Regions from separate parts of the Homo sapiens genome. Here region 2 is linked to region 1. A link means that fine-mapping ties the variant in region 1 to the expression of a gene that starts in the linked region. Tissue or cell type: unexposed skin. Region 1 holds a variant in brackets; the other region holds the start of a gene. All regions are shown on one strand. Distances are between the middles of the regions.

Region 1 (2,691 bases):
GCAACTTTGGAACAGGCAGAGGTTGGAACACTTTGGAGGCCTCAGAAGAAGACAGGAAGATGTGGAAAACTTTGGAACTTTCTAGAGATTTGTTGAATGGCTTTGACCAAAATGCTGCTAGTGATATGGAGAATGAAGTCAACACCAAGGTGGTCTCAGATAGAGATGAGAAACTTCTTAAGAACTAAAGCAATGGTGACTCTTGCTATGCATTAGCAAAGAGACTGGTGGCACATTGCCTGTGCCCTAGAGATGTGTGGAATTTTGAACTTGGGAAAGATGATTTAGGATATCTGGTGGAAGAAATTTCTAAGTGGCAAAGTGTTCAATAGGAAGCAGAGCATAAATGTTTGGAAAATTTGCAGCCTGACCATGTGATAGAAAAGAAAAACCTATTTTCTAAGGAGAAATTCAAGCCCTCTGCAGAATTTTGCATAAGTAACAAGACGCTGAATGTTAGTCACCAAGACAATGGGGAAAATGTCTCCAGGACATATCAGAGAACTTCACAGCAGCCTCTCCCATCACAGGTCCAGAGACCTAGGAGGGAAAAAATGGTTTTGTGAGCCTGTCCCAGGGTCCCCCTTACTCTATGCTGCCTCGGGACATAGGGCCCAGTATCCCAGCTGCTTCAGCTCCAGCCATGGCTAAAAGGGGTCAATGTACAGCTCAGACCATTACTTCAGAGGGTGCAAGCCCCCTTGCTTGGCAGCTTCCACGTGGTGCTGTGCCTGTGGGTACACAGAAGACAAGAATTGAGGTTTGGGAACCTCTGCCCAGATTTCAGAGGATGTATAGAAATGCCTGGATATCCAGGCAGAGGTTTGCTGCAGGGACAGAGCCCTCATGGAGAACTCCTGCTGGGGCATTGCAGAAGGGAAATGTGGTGTTGGAGCCCCCACACAGAGTCCCTACTGGGCCACTGCCTAGTAGAGCTGTGAGGAGAGAGCCACCATCCTCCAGACTCCAGAATGGTAGATCCATCAACAGCTTGCACAGTGTGCCTGGAAGAGTCACAGGCACTCAATGTCAGCCCATGAAAGCAGCTGACAGGGGGACTGTACCCTTCAAAGCCACAGGAGTGGAGCTGCCTGAGGTTGTGGGAGCCCACCTCTTGCATCAATGTGACCTGGGTGTGAGGCATGGAGTCAAAGGGGATCATTTTGGAACTTTAAGGTTTAATGACTCCCCAGTTAGATTTTTGGA[C/T]TTGCATGGGGCCTGTAGCCCTTTTGTCTTGGCCAATTTCTCCCATTCAGAATGGGTGTATTTAACCAATGCCTATACCCTCATTGTATCTAGGAAGTAACTAACTTTCTTTTGATTTTACAGGCTCATAGGCAGAAGGAACTTGTCTTGTCTCATCTGAGACTTTGAACTTGGACTTTTGGGCAAATTCTGGAATAAGTTAAGACTATGGGGGACTGTTTGGAAGGCATGATTGTGTTTTGAAATGTGAGAATATGAGATTTGGGAGGGGCCAAGGGTGGAATGATATGGTTTTGCTCTGTGTGCTCACCCAAATCTCACCTTGAATTGTAGTAATTCTTACATGTTAATGGTGAGACCAGGTGGAGATAATTGAATCGTGGGGGTGGTTTCCTTCATGCTGTCCTCCTGATAGTAACTTCTCATGAGATATTATGGTTTTATAAGGGGCTCTCCATCACTTGGCACTCATTCTCTCTCCTGCCACCTTGTGAAGAGTTGTCTTCTACCATGATTGTAAGTTTCCTGAGGCCTCCTCAGCCATGTGGAGCTGTGAGTCAATTAAACCTCTTTTTAAAATAAATTACCCAGTCTCAAATACTTCTTCATAGTAGCATGAGAACAGACGCTTATGGAGTACATGAGGTATTTTGATACAGGCATGCAATGAATAATTAGCACATCAGGGTAAATGAGGTATCCATCATCTCAGGCATTTATACTTTATGCTACAGACAATCCAAGTATGTTCTTTTAGTTATTTTTCAATGTACAATAAATTATTGTTGACTGTAGTCACTCTGTTGTACTGTCAAATACTAGATCCTATTCATTCTATCTGTCTATCCATATTTTCATACCCATTAACTATCCCTTTTTCTTCCCTGCGTACTACCCTTTTCAGCCTCTGGTAACCACCCCAAAAGCAAAATACTACTACTACTACTACTAATAATAATAATAATAATAATAAATTTTATAGGAATGTACAATAAACATTTAATCATTTTTCTTGTGTTGCAAATGTTTGTTTTTTCTTCTTTTGGTACAATTATAAATAGAGTTGTAATAAACATAATCAGTAAGTAAATAAAAGGGAAAAAAACCGCATCTTCATCCCACTAGGCTGGGATTTGTTTATTAATTTTTTTATTTTTAGTGACAGAATCTGTCACTCAGACTAGAGTGCAGTGTTGCAACCATAGCTCGCTCTAACCTTGAACTCCTGAGCATAAGTGATCCTCTTCCCTCAGCCTCCTGACTGGCTAGGACTGCAGGTGTGCATCACTGTGCCTGTCTATTTTTTTTAATTTTTTGTAGAAACAGTGCCTTGATATGATGCCCAGGTTGATTTTGAACTCTTGGCCTCAAGTGATCCTCCTGTCTTGGCATCCCAAAGTGCTGGGATAACAGGCACATGCCACCATGTCCAGCTTAGACCTGGAATTAAATTATCACCTTCCCTTTTACAAATCATGCATATTG
Region 2 (2,691 bases), 220 kb after region 1:
TTTTTATCTTGATTTGTGAACTGTCTCTGCCAACTACTCAAATTTCAAGCTTGTTGAGACATATGTTATCCCTGGAAACCCATCATAAAAATGAAGCATTTTACTGTCCCACTAATTCTGTGTGCTCTGGTCAGTTTCCCCATCTAGATCCAAATTAACCATGTAATTGTCCTTATACTAGTGACTAGTATTTTAAATGGCCTTTTTAGGGAAACCAAAAAGAATAAATTTATTGCTTTTTGTGCAAAAATATAATCTGGTTTGGATTCTCTTTTCTAGCTTTTAAAGCAGTGAGATAGAATGCAGTCGTGGGAAAAGAACTGGATATGGAATTAGGAAGATCTGCATTTGAAATCCAGCTCTGCGACTACTTCTTACGTGTGTGATCTCATAAAGTCACTTAATTTATCTGAGCCTTGGCCTCTTTACCTGTCAGATGGGGACCCTCTGGTGAATCAAATGAGCCATTAACGATCTAATAACATAACATGTTACCTTTATAACTTAATAATTCATTTAAAAAATAATTTGTGTATGTAAGGATGCAAATATAATTAGTAGGAGATAAGAATGAAAGAAAACCTTCAGCCAAAGGCAGAAATATTTTGGTTAAAAAGAAATCAAAGTACTGAAGAACAAGAGCAAGACAAAAATGATTACAACGTCTTCATTTATAGCTCACATGTCACAGCTCAGTATTTATAGGTTTGTTAGTGACAGCCTTCCCAGTATAGCAATGTTAATTACGAAGTAGCTGTCATTGTGTTTCACTGACACAGCACTGTGCACCTGACGGAGGCTGAAAGTACTCATTATTTCCATAGCTGATCATTTAAAGGTCCAAAAATTACACCAATAAATCCGTTTGTGTCTGATTACAATCTCTCTATATCGTACATTGAAATTCCCTGGTGACTTTTTAACAAATCTTAGTGCATTTTATTTCCCAAATATGATTTGTAATAATCAGAGCTTGACTAAAACCTCAGGAAGAGGTGATGGGTGTGAAGCTGAACACAATACTAAATCTATATTCAAATTTTCCAGAGCCTATACTTCCATCGTTATTTAAATGCCATGATCAAAGCAATAGATAGACTAAATATGGAGGGAAAGGAGGGAGGGAGAAACTGAAGAAGGAAGGGAGAGGGAGGGAGAGAAAGAGATCGAAGAGAGGCTTGGGAAAATGTTCAGTGGAAAATCTGTAGAAATGATGTAAGAGAAAGCAAAGGCAGGGATTGGAGTAAGGGGTGTATAACTGAGACTATAAAAACTCAGAGAGAAAACTCACCACCAGGGCTGAGTTTTGGAGAAACTGCAGAGACAGTACTCTAAAGTTAGAATCTCCTGATCTTTCACGAGGTAAGTTATATGTAAAAATTGATAAAGATTTAATGCTTCTTTTAACTATTATTTTTACTTTCACAGACTCTTTAAATGTTTTGATTATATCTTGATTTTGTTAAAATTAGAGTGGTAATATTTCCCTCTCTAAAATGAGTAGAAAATCAAAGATATTTTTGTAATGCAAACTTAAGGTAGAACTAATTGCTTATTCAGATATTTCATATTTATAAGATTGCTTTTCTCTTCCATTTCAAAACAAACAGAAAGTGAATGCAAAATAATAATTCTATACATATATATGTTATTAGCGTTATTTTGCTTTCCTCAAAATTGTGTAATATTAGAAAAATGTTTAATATAAAAGAGTGGTCTAAACAACCTAGGTAAAAAAGAAAGGTTTTTTCCTCATTATTTCTATCAAAACTGGAGCTTAAGAAACATCCCTAAACTAATGAAATTCTATCTCTTATGTTCTTAAAACCTAATGCATCTTCTGTTTTTCTCCTTATATGTCAAATATGCAAATATGATATTAATAACATAGTTGGAGTAGACTTAGAGTATGCCTGTTCTTCAGTATTTGTAGTGCTCTTGCTATTCAATGATTGAATTGAGAGTTAATCTGAAACATACATTTGAGCTCTGTTGGAGAAGAAATTTAAAATTTTATTTCAGGTTTAGTGTGCACTCAGTGAATTCAGTTCTAACAATTCAAATGTTGTTTCTTTGAATAACAGACTCTATAGGTTTAGGAATGTGATTATTATTTGTTTATGAGTTTTCCTTCTAAAAATTTAACATTTTTGAGAATGAATTATGGTAATTTTAATGCCTATATAAGTTATAGAATTGATAGTGTTATACCAAAAACACCAGGGACATTCTGTGTTTTCTCTTACTTTGGTACTACTCTTCAGCACGCTTACAGAACTTTTCTAAGGAGCACTTTCTGTAGATAACAGTTCAGGTCTCCTTCATGTCAGTGAATTTTACTATGGCTTCATTCAAAAATTATTCAGAGTGTTTAAGGTTGACATTTGCTTTCTCCCCCTTATTTCTCAGGATTTTTAACTGATTCTTATATACTGAATAATGAGCAGTAGAGAAGCAGATATCTTCAGTTGACTGGGCACGGGAACCTCAGGGCTATAATTTTAACTTCTTTTACAAATACTCTCAATGATTTGAACATTTGATTAATAAAATTAGATTAATTGAACTTGTCTCAAAAATAAAGAACTCGAAGTAAGAAATCCTAATATATCATTCTAGCTCTGCTATAATCCACCTATACAACTGCAGGCAAGCCTTAAGCACGAATTAAGGCTTGATAATATTGTATTT

What was found. PIP is the estimated chance that this variant, and not a neighbour inherited with it, causes the effect.
Region 2: OSTN starts here. The variant in region 1 is the best candidate, but not a certain one, in a credible set for the expression of OSTN in unexposed skin (GTEx, PIP 0.68).

Annotation. Positions count from the first base shown.
Region 1 is chr3:190,979,262-190,981,952 of GRCh38, forward strand. No RefSeq gene overlaps it. Among named protein-coding and RNA genes, the nearest start is that of SNAR-I, 100 kb to the left of the region's middle. The variant C/T (reference allele first, on the strand shown) is at 1,207.
Region 2 is chr3:191,197,946-191,200,636 of GRCh38, forward strand. It overlaps OSTN (osteocrin), which reads left to right and starts at 1,296. Exons shown (of 5, transcript NM_198184.2): 1 at 1,296-1,362.